2 linked regions of the Homo sapiens genome follow. The protein of the gene in region 2 binds, or shares a complex with, the protein of the main gene of each other region. Links are inferred from orthologs where the notes say so. Each region holds a gene or a part of one and is shown on either strand. Other genes may lie near its edges. The genes, in order: HCN2 and PEX5L.

Evidence for each region.
Region 1: the proteins of PEX5L (region 2) and HCN2 are in contact, whole or in part, in a crystal structure (PDB 4EQF), measured with the Mus musculus proteins. The link is inferred for Homo sapiens from one-to-one orthologs. Residues at the interface, in NP_001156988.1 of Mus musculus: Glu315, Glu317, Val343, Asn347, His426, Asn453, Arg454, Ala457, Thr458, Ala460, Asn461, Tyr472, Arg484, Tyr487, Asn488, Ile491, Ile494, Ile537; in NP_032252.1 of Mus musculus: Leu859, Ser860, Ser861, Asn862, Leu863.

Annotation. Positions count from the first base shown.
Region 1 is NC_000019.10:592,244-600,193, reverse strand, and holds part of HCN2 (potassium/sodium hyperpolarization-activated cyclic nucleotide-gated channel 2), read right to left. Parts: intron 1-7,950. UniProt on the Homo sapiens protein: Hyperpolarization-activated ion channel that is permeable to sodium and potassium ions. Displays lower selectivity for K(+) over Na(+) ions. Contributes to the native pacemaker currents in heart (If) and in neurons (Ih).
Region 2 is NC_000003.12:180,033,276-180,041,166, forward strand, and holds the start of PEX5L (PEX5-related protein), read right to left. Parts: upstream 3,663-7,891; 5' UTR 3,325-3,662; coding exon 3,304-3,324; intron 1-3,303. UniProt on the Homo sapiens protein: Accessory subunit of hyperpolarization-activated cyclic nucleotide-gated (HCN) channels, regulating their cell-surface expression and cyclic nucleotide dependence.

The sequences.
Region 1 (7,950 bases), on a different chromosome or scaffold from region 2:
CTCAAAGAACAAAACACAACAAAACAAAAACCTCTGGGCTCTGGGGCCAAGGGCTCTTGCTGAAGGGGAGGTTCCAGACTGGGGTCTGAGCCCACATGGCCTGCGTGTGCCTGACTCAGACAAGGGAGGGTCTTGAATTTCCAGCACAAAGATTCATAGGATTTTGCCATTAACACTGGGGGCTAGGCCAAACACACTGGCTCATGCCTATAATTCCAACATTTTGGGAGGCTGAGGTAGGAGGATCGCTTGAGCCCAGGAGTTCAAGACCAGCCTGGGTAACATGAGACCCTCTGACACACACACACACACACACACACACACACACACACACACACACACACACGGGACCCCTTCCCATCCCTGTACCAACTCAGCCTTCTTAGTTCTTGAGGTTTTCTTTTTTGAGACAGAGTCTCACTCTGTCGCCCAGGCTGGAGTGCGATGGCACAATCTCGGCTCACTGCAAGCTCCGCCTCCAGGGTTCACACCATTCTCTTGCCTCACCCTCCCGAGTAGCTGGGACTATAGGCGCCCGCCACCACGCCCAGATAATTTTTTTTTTTTTTTGTATTTTTAGTAGAGACGGGGTTTCACCATGTTAGCCAGGATGGTCTCGAACTCCTGACCTCGTGATCCGCCCGCCTTGGCCTCCTAAAGTGCTGGGATTACAGGCGTGAGCCACCGCGCCCGGCCAATTCTTGAGGCCTTATCCCCACCCCAGGCCCAGCCCCTCCCTATCATGGCCGGGGTCCCCACATCCTTTCGGAGGAGATGCTGAGGGACTGGAGGGACTCCCCAAAGTTAACACCAATAAAGAAAAACCTGGGAGCTCATCGCTGGCGTGGCCGCCGGGACCTTTGTTTCAGGAGCCGCCGAAAGTCGGCTCCTTGCTTCTGGACGGCTCCTCGAGGGAAAAGCTGTTAACACCACGTCTGCGGGGTGACCCAGACGCTCCACTTCGGGGAAATGATCCCGAGGAAACGGTCCAAAAGGAAGAGAAAAAAATTAAAAAGCCATTTGTACCAAAATGTTCACAGCAGCTCGGTCTGCAAGAGCCAAACGCTGGAAGGGACCCAGCGACTCACATCGTGGTGGCATCAGCCAGACCTGGGCTGGCACCCGCCTGCTGGCACAGTGACCTTGGACAAGTTCCTGCAGCCCCTGAGAACCTCAGTCTCTTCTTCCAAGCATCCACCGCCTCGGGATGGGGAGGGGCTGAGCCTTCGGGACACCCCCCAAGAACCACCCAGGCTGGGGATAAAACCTAGAGAAGGGCTGACTCAGGCTGGGCACGGTGGCTCACGCCTGTAATTCCAGGGCTTAAGGAGGCTGAGGCGGGCAGATTACAAGGTCAAGAGATCGAGACCATCCTGGCCAACACGGTGAAACCCCGTCTCTACTAAAAATACAAAAATGTATTATTTTTTTGTGTGAGGTGGCGGGCGCCTGTAGGCCCAGCTACTCGGGAGGCTGAGGCAGGAGAACGGCATGAACCCGGGAGGCGGAGCTTGCAGTGAGCCGAGATCGCGCCATCGCACTCCAGCCTGGGCGACAGAGCGAGACTCCGTCTCAAAAAAGAAGGGAAGGGTGGGTGCAGGGGCTCATGCTTCTAATGCCAGCACCTTGGGAGGCCAAGACTAAAGGATCACAGAAGCTCAGGAGTTCAGGACCAGCCTGGGCAAGATAGTGAGATCCCGTCTCTACAAAAAATACAAAAATTAGCCAGCGTGGTGGTGCGCACCTGTGGACCCAGCTACTTGGGAGGCTGAGGTAGGAGGATTGCTCGAGCCCATGAAGTCGAGGCTGCAGTGAGCCAAAACTGCACCATTGCACTCCAGCCTGGGTGACAGAGTGAGACTCTGTCTCAAAAAAAAAAAAGGCTGACTTGATCTCGGGGTGGGGAGGGGTCCCCTCACAAGCTTGAAGGGTGAAATCAAATGACTAAAAGGACTAGAAATTTAAGGCCTTCCTTTCCCTGAGTCTAGACAGGACATGAGGGCTCAGGCCCCCAGTCCGACACATCTGCTCAGCAACGAGACCCCCAGGGCCCCAGCACCGAGTGGGCTGAGGGGATGCCACCCGCCTGCCGCTGGCCCCCTGCCCCTCAGCCCCGAGGGGGCTCACCGTGGAGCTCAGCCCCAGCCTCACCCTCTGGATTGAGACCTGCCTCCCACCTTCGAGCACCAGTCTTGGGACAAAACCAGCAGGAAAGAGCAGTTGAGAAGGCCACAGGGCCTAGAAACCTCCCCCACGAGGGGCGAGGAGAAACTCCCAGGGGGCTCCAGAGACCACCAAGGGGGACCTAGAAACTGCCAAGGAGACCTAGAAACCGCCAAGGAGACCTAGAAACCACCAGGAGGACCTAGAAACTGCCAAGGAGACCTAGAAACCACCAGGAGGGCCTAGAAACCACCAAGGGGGACCTAGAAACCACCAGGAGGACCTAGAAACCACCAGGAGGACCTAGAAACCACCAGGAAGACCTAGAAACCACCAAGGAGACCTAGAAACTGTCAAGGGGGACCTAGAAACCGCCAAGGAGACCTAGAAACCACGAGGAGGACCTAGAAACCACCAAGGGGGACCTAGAAACCACCAGGAGGACCTAGAAACCGCCAAGGAGATCTACAAACCACCAGGAAGACCTAGAAACCACCAAGGAGACCTAGAAACTGTCAAGGGGGACCTAGAAACCGCCAAGGAGACCTAGAAACCACCAGGAGGACCTAGAAACCGCCAAGGGGTACCTGGTTTTAAACGGCCATATAACATGAAGGCCTCCTTTCCAGGTGATGATTAACAGACATTCTCCCCCTTTATTCTTGGGGTGAGCTGGGGGCAGGTACCACACCTCCCCTCTGATGGAAGTGGGACTGCAGGATGAGACCCCAGGACTGTCCTCTTATCCACGGCCCACACTGTCTGGAAACCACCTCCCTTGAGCCTTCTGCTCCTGTGTCCCCAGAAAGGACTCCTCAGCCCATCTTGCCCAGCAGGGCAGTATTCCTGGGGATTACGGGGGTCAGAGCAGAGGGGCCTAGGAGAAGGGACAGGTGGGGTGGCCACCCTGAGGGTCCCTTGTGGGGCTGGGCCTGCCCGTTCCAACCACAATGCCTCCAAGCAGGGCTTGGGGCCGCAACCCTCGTCGTCACCAGCCAGAGGTCAGAAGGAAGAAGGGCGCCCACGCATGTCCCCTACCAAGGGGAAACCGAGGCCTGGGGCAGAGGGGACCCCAGAGCCCTGCAGGGCGTCACTGTCTCTGCCGGTGCACCCCAACCCTCTCCACCCCAACCCTCTCCTTGCCCAACACTAGACTGAGTGACCTTGGGAGACCCTCTCCTGCCTCTCGCCCTGGGGAGGGGGAGGCAGCTCCAGAAGACAGGACCCCAGAGAGGGGACCTGGGGTCAGGGGAAGGCCCAAAGCCCAACCCCACTCCCCCTCACACTCTGTGCAGCCGCGTCCGGCAGCCCTTTCCCCATCCGGCCACCATAGGGACCCAGGCGGGCCCCAGCACTCCCCGGGCACCCTGTGCCCTCCTTGTCCAACCCCAGTGCTGAGCAGGGACAGGCCCCCCTCAGCTGTCACAGAAACATCAGTGACCATCATTAAATCCTGTATTTAAAACCCATCCCCGACAGGTAACAGTGAGGCCTCTACGAGGGCCCCTTCCTCGGAAACGCGGGGGTCCTGCCACTTTGTCCAGCTTGGCCCTCGCAGGCAGGGAGGGAGACCAGCTCCGGAGGCCGGGATGAGGCTGGGTCCCTGGGGAAACCTTCCGGCCTCAGCTCTCACACCTGGGGGACCGGAAGAAGCCTCGGACCCCCTCTCACTCCAGAGTGGCTTCAGTGGGGCCCCCGGCACCTGACACCGATGTGAGCTCAGCCCTCCTCCAACAGCCGCCCAGCCTCTCTCTCGGCTCTGACACGGAAACTGAGGCTCCTCCAGCCATAAGTGAAACAGTGGGATGGGAACCCAGACAGACCATGTCATTCTCCTGCCCCGAGCTCAGGGTTCTTCCCCTGAAGTTCCCAAAGCCGACGCAGGTCCCCGTCTCTCCAGGGCTGGATGAAGCTTGGGGGAGGAGGCCGCCGACCCGGCTCCCAAACCCCACGAGGACACCAGGTCTCCTGGCAACAGAAGGCCCAGGACCCTCAGCCCCTTGGATCCCAGGGGAGGGCCTGCCCAGGGGGTCTTCAGCCCCTGCTGGAGCCTGAGTCCCGGGTTGGGGAACGGGCGAGGGCAGCCAGGCCCTCCCCGCAGGAGCCCAGCCTCAGGCCGGAGGCCGTCCAGGATTTACAGATGGGGACAATCCGGGAGAGGATTAGGGGCCGGAGGTCGGTGATTAAGGGAGAGCCTCGGGCCGGGGGATTAGGAGACGGCACTCTCAGCTGTGGAGTCATGGCCAGATCCGTGGCAGGTGCCCAGGATTAAGAAAGGGAGCTGCTACGGGTGGGGGAGATCTCGGGTTCCCGGGTGATCCCGACGGGGCAGATGTTCACCGAACTCTCGCCGGGCGCCGGGGCACACGATGACCACACAGGCCCAGCCCCAAGACAGACACATGGGATGGGCCTGTCAGCCCCAGGCAGGTGGGAGGGCTCCTTGGAGGAGGTGGCGTGTGGGTGGATGAGATGGTGAGGGGAGGGCAGTGGCTGAAGAGGGGCAGCAGGTGCGGAGGTTGATGCTCCGGGTTCCCTTCAAGGCCGGTGGGCGGCCTCGGGACCAGGGGACATGACTGGGGAGGGCTGGAGCCAGGGAGGAGGTAGAGGTGACAGGGAAAGAAGGACCGATGTCTGGAGAGGCCCATGCTGACAGCCGGGAGGCCAGAAAGGGGGACGGGGAGGCATCTGGCAGGAGAGAGGCGGCCAGCGCACAGGGTGCGAGGCTGAACCGTGGGGTGGGGGGTGAGGCAGGGCCCGGCCCAAGTGAGTGGGGGGCTGATGAAGGTGACTTGAATATGTGGGTTTTTAGGTTTTTTTTATTTTTTTGAGACAGGGTCTCACTCTGTTTCCCGGGCCGGAGTGCAGTGGCACGATCATAGCTCACTGCAGCCTCAACCTCCTGGGCTCAGGTGATCCTCCCGCCTCAGCCTCCAGAGTAGCTGGGACTACAGGTGCACGCCACCACGCCTGGCTAATTTTTTAACTTTTTGTAGAGATGGGGGTCTTGCTATGTTGCCCAGGCTGGTCTCGAACTCCTGGGCTCAAGCGATCCTCCCGCCTCCGCCTCCCAAAGTACTGGCATTACAGGCATGAGCCACAGTGCCTGGACAAAGATGTCCGTTTTCGAGCAGGGAACATAGGGAAGGCCCTGAAGAGAGCGGGGAGGCCTTGGCCACCCCGACCCCTGACCCCTCCACGCAGACCAGAGGGCAGGCCACCGCCACCTGGGATATGGGTCCATGCACACCCCACCATCCTGCACACGCTGGGCCTTCCTGCCGTGACCAGAGCCAGACAAACCCTCGCCTCGCCCTGCCCCCGGGGCCATCCCCCCAGGATAATGGGGGGTTTATTCCCACGCCCTAATGCTGGGATTCATCACTGCGGATTTGCAGAGCTGCACCCCCAGGCTGATCTCCCGCTGACCCACTCAGCCATCTGAGGCGGGGCCCAGGGGCCGCCTGTCCTGGTGGGGTCTTGGAGCAGCTCCTCCCCGACCAGTCCTCTCGGGGACCCCAGGGGACATAACAGATCCTGGCTTTGGGGAGCATCTCGTCTGTCTCCCCTCACACGGGGCCTCCCCAGCTGAAGACAATTCAGAAACACAGACCTGCAAGTCAGCAGCAGCAGGAGACGGCAGGGCGGCCACAGGGCACTTAGCCCTGGAACTGGACCGAGGGCAGTCAGGAAGCCGCCAGCCTCTCTCCACCCGACACCTGCCCTGTGCCCCCCAGAGCTCCCAGGGCACAAACCCCGGATCTGCCCAGGTCTCCACCCCGCCAGGTCTGCCCAGCCCCCTCGGTGACACCGGGGGCAGGGAGGGTGGATGACAGCAAGCTTCGGAGAACGCGACCTCCTCAGACCGCCCCTCCCTGGGCCTTCGTGTCCCCTCCAGCCCCAGCCCCTCTCCTGCGGAGACACCCTCCAGCCCCAGCCCTTCTCGTGCAGAGACCTCCAGCCCCTGCCCCTCTCCTGCGGAGACACCCTCCTTTGCACGACTCAGGCTTTCCCAAGTGGACCTGTGTGGCCTTTAGAATCAGCGGCGGCTGGGGTGAAGGGAGTAGGAATGAACTATACTTATTTTTGACCTAATTTTGCTCTGGGAGGCACAGAAGACCCTGCCGAAGCCCTGGGGGTTGCATAAGGCCAAACCCCTTCCTTCTTGGTTTTCACGCCTGTTCCAATTCAGGCACCAACCGTGATCACCTACAAGGAAGGGAACTTGAGCCTCTGGAACCCAAAACCTTGAACTTGGGTCCTTGAACTTGCTCTTCCACCAGCACCCCAGGGAAGCGCCCAGCATGCCTCTGGGGACTTTCAGACGTCAGGCCGGGGTGTAGAGCCACCCACAGCCCCAGAGACTTCAGCAATAGACCAACTGCACTTCTTCTTCCTTTTCTTTTTTTTTGAGACCAAGTCCCACTCTGTCAGCCAGGCTGGAGTGCAGCAGCGCGATCTCGGCTCACTGCAACCTCTGCCTCCTGGATTCAAGTGATTCTCCTGCCTCAGCCTCCCGAGTAGCTGGGATTACAGGCGCTCGTCACGATGCCCAGCTAATTTTTGCATTTTTAGTAGAGACGGGATCATCTCACCATGTTGGCCAGGCTGCTCTCGAACTCCTGACCTCAGGTGATCCGCCCGCCTCAGCCTCCCAAAGTGCTGGGATCTCAGGCGTGAGCCGCTGCACCCTGGCACCAACTGCACTTCCAAAGGGGCCAGCCGCCCAGGCCTGAGAGCCGAAATCTGGACCCACGTCAGCCCAGGACCCATGCTCTGCCCCTCAGAAAATTCAGCAAATATGTGGCACCTGCTGTATACTGGGACTGGGACGTGGGGCGTGAAAGAGGCCACTTCCGAGCACGGGAGCAGGGTGGACTTGGGCGTGGCGGAGACAGCTGGGCAGCGAGGAAGAACCGGGGTGAGGGCGTGCCTGGGGGGCACAGGCTGGGCAAGGAGCACAGCACTCTCTCAGCAGGAAGGGGAGGTGAAGAGAGTGTGAGACGTGAGGCTGAGACACTGGCAAGGCTGTGAAAGACCCCATCCTTCTCCCTCATACCATCCCCACCGTGCAATTGGGGAAACTGAGGCAGAGGGGCCCAGCGAGGACCCAAGACACCCAGCCAGGCACAGGAGGCCTTGGGCCCGAAGCCAGTTGGGGCCAGGCTCCTGAGTCAGCTGCAAACGTAGAGGCCCCTTCGCTTGCTGTGGGCTGCCCCAAAACACCCTCCACAGCAGGGTCCGGCCGCCTGCTTAGGGAGCTTTTGAGATATTCTTGGGGGTCTTTTTCCACACTGATTCCACACTGGCACAGGTCCCAAGCCTGGGGAGGGTCCTAGGGGCCCCGTGCACCCAGCTTGGCAACATCGAAATCCTTTTTTAAAATCTGACTGCCGTGACTCCCCTAGTCCCGAAGACAGGCCCCGCTAACCCCATTCCCTGCCTGCTCAGTTCCACTTCAACACTCATCTGCCGGGGTGGGGCTGCACTTGGTCCACACAGGGGCCTCTGAGCCCTCTATGCCTCAGAGCACAGAGCGGGGCCACAGCCTGCCCAGGCCTCCAGGCGACCACGCCCAAGGAGGGTGGAAGGATGAGAGGGCTTCACTCCTACCACCGGCCTTCCCCCCAAGCCCCGGGATCAGCCATCTGCCCACCTGCCCCCCAGGCCACCGACCGCCCCTCTGCAGCCAGGGGGTCGCTGGAGCTGCCCAGGGGAGGGAGTGGCTGGTGTGGGCCTCCACCTGCCAGCCCCCACGCTGCGGTGCACCCATCTCTGTCGAAGGTC
Region 2 (7,891 bases):
TGTGGAATGATTCCCCAGACAGCTTGAATAAGTCAAAAAGTCTGCTTTGAATGCCTAAAATAAAGATCAGTTACAATTACAAATAGATTTTTTGTTTGATTGCCTTCTGAAATAACTTTCTTTTATTAAAAAACCCATTGCTGTGGATTCTTCAATAACAATTCAAAAAATCTTAGTAGAAAATTGAAATTATATTTCTCTGTATTTATACCACCCCAGAAATAAAACAGCTAGGTTAAGAAAACATTGAGAGACATGTAATAATTTCCTCTAACTGGAAATGTTAACTCAAATGCACATAGGCAAATAATCACCTCAGCCCTGAACATACAGAGGTATTGGTGGAATTAAGACCATAGGCCCTCAATGAGCAACAGAGTTTTGTCAGAACCGATGCTAAAGTATATTCAATCATCATCAGTGCCCTTGGTCAAAAGAAAAAAATAAGTAAATCTAAAACAGTCACAAAAGAAGCAACCTTTGCTTCATTTACTGGGGTGACTAACTCCCCTTGGAAATAATTGGTAAGGCAGCTGGATAAAAACATAGCTCCAGGACCCTGCTCCTAAGAAATATACCTGCGGCTTTTACTATGAAACCAAGAAATATCTGTTACTCTATGCTCTATCTGTAATAGATGCCAACTTTTATTTTCTAATGAACTAGCAGAGCAAACCAAATGTGTGTTTTTAAAAGTCTGCGGTTTCTAAAATGAATTCAGATTCTACCATAAACCAGATGAATTAGCCATATGTATGAGAATTAATAGACTTTATCTGCAAAATCATTAAGTTGCAAAAACAAAGGCACCACAGGAGTTTTAAATTAGACTATTTTTAAGTCTTCCTGAGAACACCTGCCCCTACTTCAAACTGCTAATTTACAAAGCACTTTATTTTAAAGTCTCTTGGATACAGAAAAGAGAAGAATTAGAATGCATAGCAAAAGATTGCAAACATTTCTGTTTCACTCTTGTTTTAAGGTATCAGTCAAGTAACATTATGTTTCAAATTAACTCCAAAGCTGGCAGAAATGTTAGTAAATCTGCTTATCCCTGGTCCACTTTACCAAATATGGATTCAGATTTTAATCATACACATTTTGGAGTGTTTGGAATGTGTTTCTTCTTATCTGTGATTAGAGTCAGGTACACACAGGAAGATGATAGTATCTCTGATAAGGAAACGTTATTTTGTCCATAGGCTAAATAATATTCTTTGGGGGAAGAGATATGAGTTTAAAATGTAAGCCAACAAGTATATTATGAATCAATCTGTCATAGGTATTTTTTTGTTGGGGGGAGCAGATGCCCATTCAGATCATCATACTATTGAATAACTACTAAACGTACCTACTAAGGCCTCGGAAGTTTTATGCTTAACATTAATGGTTAATAGTAAGTAGGAAAAAAGTATTATGCTCTGAAATTTTGGTGGATGTATTGATTACAGTCTTTATTTAGTAATGTTTTAATTTAAGCTTGGCAGCAAAGATTTGTGAGTTTTACTGCAAGTCATCATATTTGCTGTTACAGCAGTGCACAAGCAAAAGACATTAAGTTGGGAGAATATGCAGAGTCTTATATTTTGTTTATTCTTTCAAAGTGAAATTAAACCCTCAGACATTGTTCCAGGCAACTCAAGTTTCAATAACATTCTCCTTTGAGATATTGAGAAAATTGAGTTAAAATTGTTTTTGGGTGCATGAATTTACCATATTGTTGCTTCGATTCTTCATTCACAGTAACATATTTTTTAAGCAACAAAACAATACTGTGCAAAGTTTTTGTTAATTTCCCCTTAGTGGTCAATTGTCAATTTTGTGTAAATGAACAATTTTTTGAGGGTTGACTCTATTAAAATCTTCCTGTTTTACCCTTGTGAAGAAACTGTTTAAAAAACAGATAATATATAAAATTGTAAGTATCATTCTTGGGTGAAGATGAAGCATAAAACTATAGTAATAATTCTTTGTTAATTTTTTCAGCAGTCATTATTTGAATTCTTCTATGTTACTTAACTTTTCAATTGGTGTAGCTTTTATAAGAAACATGCAGATCACATTGATCATATATAATATTTAAAAATATACTTCATTCACTACTTTTTGTCTATCAAATGTGATATAATCACATTAATAATTTTCAAAACAGGATGATGTTAGTCATACGGGAAATCTTTTGGAATTCTGGCACTGTATATTGAGAATTCTTATAAAAATTGAGACTATGATGAAATATTGTGTTTTATTTAAAAATGGATTATAGTCCAAAAGAATTTCCCTAAGTTATGGAAATTAAATCTGGGTAGTACTAAGTCATAAATATAACAACATATTTATCTATTTCCAATTGCTCTAAAAGACACAGAAGCAAAATCCTCAGTATTCATAAATGTTATACACCAGGATAAAGGCATCACACATAATGATTGTATTTGACCATCTTTGGAATGGAAAGGAAGCCCAAACATCAAACCTGATGACTAAACCATTTAGGTGCGATAAAGAGTCCAGTTCATACTTTAGAAAGCTGAGTTAGTATTTTATTTTTCTCCCAAAGCATATATCTGCCTTTATAAGAACCAACCAACCGTATGAATGAGAACTGGAGTCAAGGTTAAAGTAATCTTGCCCAAGAGAGTAGAGTGTGTTTGCATCGGAAAGAAGCAGCGGCTCAGCTCAGATGAATATTAATAACAACCGGAGGCAGCACCTCCCCTGAAAAACATTAGAGCTCCTTGGACATGTGTTTGAAATTCATCCTCCCAAGTCATCCTGTGACTATTGGAGTAGATGGCAATGTCCCATAATGTGAAGGGGGAAAATACACTATAAATCGTTTTTTAAATATAACACTTTAAAAAATGAAACGAAAGTGACAGAGTGTTCTAAGTCAAGCAACCTTTTCAGATGGTAAAGGAAAAGCTTTGTCTTTCCTATTATTGTTTGCCCTTCAGTTGACATACATGCTGAGATGCATCAATAGGATTACAACGGAAACACGGTCATCTCTAGGGTTTCCTCTGTTTCGATTCCTTGATCCTGTTTAAAGAAACAGGCTCAGGGAATGCACAGAAAACAAACTTCCCCAATCGAAGTTCTGAGGTCTTCCCTCCCCTTCTCCCACCTTCGGAAACCGGTCTAGTTTTCCCGGCAGCACCGGACAGAAATGTCACGGTCATGTTGCATCACTTCACTTGTTGAGCTGTGCGAAGGCAGCACTTGACCACAGAAACTTGGTGAACCGCCTTGCTCTTAAATTAGCCCCCAAGAATTCTCTCCAGCCCTATAGAAATGTCTTACCTGCATGTGTCCCTGGTACATTCTGCTTCGGTTTCTTCAGGGCTCCCTGAGGCCACCGGATGCTTTTCCCCCGTGCTTACTTGCCCACCAAAAGAGGGGAAAAGGTGGGTGCACAGCGGGTTCTCAGAGGGTGCTCCTGAGCCCCCTGGAGCTCCGGGTACTCGGCCGGCCGGCGGCCACTCGGCAGCGCTGCGGGCTGCCGGGAACTGTTCTCCGCTCGGGGTGCTGAAAGCGGACGCGGGAGAGCGCGCAGAGAAGGCGAGGAGCCGGGTCGGCCAGGCTCTCCTGCAGGCGCGGGTCCTGCTCGCGGGGCGTCTCTAGAACTCACTCCTTCTTCGCCGAACTCTTTCTCGCTTCCTGCCAGGTTGCCTCATGTCTCTCTCTCTCTGAGCTGCGAACCCCCTCCTCCCAGCCCTGACGTGAGCGCCTACACCAGCCGCCGCCGCAGCTGCCGAGCGGGGCGCGCGCCGTTCTCCCAGCCGCGTGCCTGCCGAGAGGCCGCGGGACCGGGCACGCGCGCGCGTTCCCAGGGGCCTGGGAGCGGCCCGAGGGCGGCCCCGGGCGGTGCGCGCTCCCCGAGCGCGTCCTCGGGGCTGCGCGCGCGCGGCGGCAAGGCGAGGTGCCGGCAGGCGGTGGTCGCGCTGGTGTACAACGCCCGCAGCAGCGCGGCGTTCAGGTGCGGCGTCGGCGGGCAGGGCGATTCTAGCGGAGAGGATGGCCGGCCGGAAGAAAGGCGGGAAGACATGCATCGTCTCTCCGGGGGCCATCCACCGCGGCTGAGCCTGTTATCCTACAGACATTATAGGCTGAGTGCAGGGGTTGCCGAAGAGTTTACTTCGGTTCTGATTCAGCTCTCGAAAGTTACGTCCGTATCACCCGTTAAATAAAGACTCCCCGCTCCCCTCATCCCCAGTTCATCGCCGAGCATTCTATTTAAAACGGCAAACCCTAGTCCCTGAGGATCTGGCATGTTTTATTTTTTTCCCTAGCACGTAACATCACCTAACATCCTTTATATTTTCCATATTTATTTTATGTACTGTCTGTCTCTCCCTCTGTACAATGTTATTTCCATGAGATCAGGGACTTTTTTTTAGGGGGGTGGAGTGTTGCACTTGGTTTTGCACGTGTGTGCACAGTAAGGTATTTAGTACTTCCTGACACATGGCAGGCACACAATAAATATTTGCTGAATGAATAGACCTTTACTACTATACACTTACACACACATACACACATATATGAAGAGTGCATTTAAATATGTCTCAAGTTGAGACTGGGTAGTTTGATGTGTCTACACAATAAATGTTCATATATACACACACACCACGGGGTGGTGTATACTGTGATTACCTAATTTTGTTGGTAAAAACATCTCCAATTCTACAGGCCCCTCATATTATGTACAGCATGATATCCCCAAAATATTGCATATAGCATAATATGCTTTTTATAAAGTTTAAAAAATCCCTAGAAATGTCAATGTGTATTCATATATTCATATACAACAATATAAAAAGGAAAGCAGTGGAACAATGAATATAGTGTTCAGAGTGTTGGTGACCCTGGGTGAAGGGAGGCAGGGAAATAGATGGGGAAGCATTTCACTTGAAGTTTAGATGTTAATGTCTTATCTTCTATGCCGGGTAGTGATTCATAGGACACCTAATATCCTATTAAAAATTACTGTGTAACTAAATAAAATAGAACCATGTATGGACTAATGAGGAGAATGTGAAATGAACAAAAGGATGTGAAATGAACCAATTCAATGCATCTGAGGTCCTAAAACAACCAACCAAACAAACACAAAAGGACTAAGACCTGTAAGCAGGAGACATGGATTCCTATTAGATTCCACTAGTAGTTACCCTTGGACAATTTCCTTTTACTACTTTGGACATCAGTTTTTTCATGTCTAAACTCTGTATAAAAAACTTATTTTTTTTACCCTGAAAATAGAGATATGTTCATAAGCACTGTAAACTGTAAAATGTCATCCAGTTCTTATTTTATTGTTCTTTATAGGACAAAGCACAGGACTTGGAGTCAGCAACAAGAGGTGCTAGTTCCATCTCACTACCTCAATGCTCTCTTGGGCAAGTGTACCAACTCTCTATTTCCTCAATTTTGAAATAAGACAAATATCTACCTAGTGTGCTGCACAGAGCTGCTGAGGACTGAATGTATGCAAAGGAAGTTGTAAATTACCAACCATGATATATGAATATGCAAACAGACTTTTTTTTCCCAGTTCAGAAAAGATGAGGACTGATTTTCTGAGACCTCAAGTACTGCAGATTTTAAAATGGTACTAATTATCATATAATACTATCATGTTATATAAAAACTGGGAAAAGTATAGTGCTTTGATTTAAAAGTACTAGAAATCTGTGAAGTAACAATAGGGTCAAAGTTTTCCAATCCATTATATGCTTGTTATTATCTAACGGCAGGTTCAAGGAGCCAACAACCATAAAAGCATTTGGATCAGAATGGCAACTGCCTAGTGTTGAAGCTAGAACTCAATATATTCTCTTCTTAAACCTGAGTCACTGATTTCGTTACTGCCTACATTCTCAAAATCTCAGGAGTGAAAGCTTTCCTTTGTGAAGAATTCCTCTTCACACTTATTCCTTCTGTTAGAAGATAAACTAAGGCACATTAAAATTTTAAAGGGTTTTTTGAGCAAATAGCCATTCATGCATCAGGCAGCAGCAGACCGAAAGCAGTTGGGGACTCTGTCGGAAGTCGTTAAAGGGAAAGATTTTATAGGGTAAATGTGGAAGCAGAGCAAAGAAATTATTTGGTTAAAGAGGAATACTGGATTTATTTGGATCATTCTAATGGAAAGTCCATAGTTAGAGGTTAGTTTGTGGTTTCTGATTGGTTAAGCTTAACTTTCACTTTCCTAGACTATTTCTTAGACTAGGAATGAGATTTGAATTATCTTTATTTTCCTCAGAAACAATGCATGTCTAATAAGCTAGGTCCAGAAAAATATTTTACAAAAGATTTATTTTGTAATTAAATTTGAAGACCCTTGTTACTCAAAACGTGGTGTGTGGACCAGCAACATCAGCATGTCCTGGGAGCTTGTAAGAAATGCAGACTCTTGGGTGCCATTTCTGACCTACTGAATTAGAATATGCGTTTCAACAAGATCCCCAGGTGCTTGTATGCACCATAAAATTTGACCAGCACTGTGGCCTAGAAGGTTTATTTATTCATGTAAATATGTGGCAAAGCTAGCTCTTGCCTTTTGCAGTGATAACACATGAGCAACCTCAGTACCACTAGAGAAGAAGAATGCATATTGCACTCCATTTATAAAATAATCTCACTGTATTTTGAGTGGTCAGTGGACTTGGCATAAAATCATAGCACATTCAGCTTTCTTACAGCAAGAAATGTGCTTAGTACCACTGCAATTTTAATCACTGTAATACAATTAAATAATTGAGAGGTAGCAGTAGAATCTATTTTGTATTGACAAAATTTAATTTTGCTTATTAGTAAGCGAATCCTCCTGCATTTCAAATGGGTATTGAAAATTCAGGATTTATTAAATCTTTGAAAAAACTTAGTAAAAATGATGAGGTTAGTGTTCTTGTGGACTTAAAAATCAGAGATAAGAGTCTTTTGATGATTCAATCATTCTTTCATAATCTGTAGAATTCAAACTCTGGTGCTGAAAGATGGTGCAGGAGAGAACAAAAGTCAAAATAATTGTAGACCAAAATTAAAATGACTAATTGGTATTTGTTGTTCAATCAGAAGGAGGAACATTTTGTTAAAGTTTGCCCACTTACCCTTTTTGTCTCTTCGACACATAGAATGAGATTAGCTGGTGTTTCAGGGCATTTGATCTGGAAAAAATTTGGGAACCCCAGGCTGCCAGGAAGAATTATGAATAATAAGAGTATGTGGACTCTGATGACGAGGAGATGGCAGCAATGTTCTTCCAAATGAACAAACAAGCTGGATGCTTCAGAGCTGGGCCTCCTATTAAACCAATTTAAGAAATTACACTATATTTGTTTACTCTTTAGGACAATGTTTTTTCAGTGATCCAATATTGCTTTTAATATTAAGTGTACTTTCTAGAGTTTCTTATTCCTGGTGAGAAAACATTTGTGAACAAAAATATTTCTTGCTTTTGACTACTCCTTTCTACTGTTGCCACTGCCATCCTAGCCCAGATTCCCTAAACCTCTTATCACTTAAAGCTAGTTTTATCACCTCCGTTCATCTCCTACATCAACCTGTCATATACATCGCAGCCAGATTAATTTTATAAAGGTCAGCATTAATCACAATGCTGCTCAGGTCAGAAATCTTTAGTGGCTTTCCATTGCCCACTAATGTCCCAAAACTTCAGCTTTTTATTCACAGTCATGGAATATCGTTTGCTGCCCAGAGCAACATCCTCTTCTAGTGGCAGGAAGCCTCTTTTCTCAAGGCTCTTTGCTTTGAATAACCATCTCTTCCTCACTCTGGTCCACTTGTGTGGTAGGAAACATTTTACTACCAGGCTTTGGGGTTGCAACATAGCACCCAGGCTGAGCCAACCAGTGCATTCCGTCCC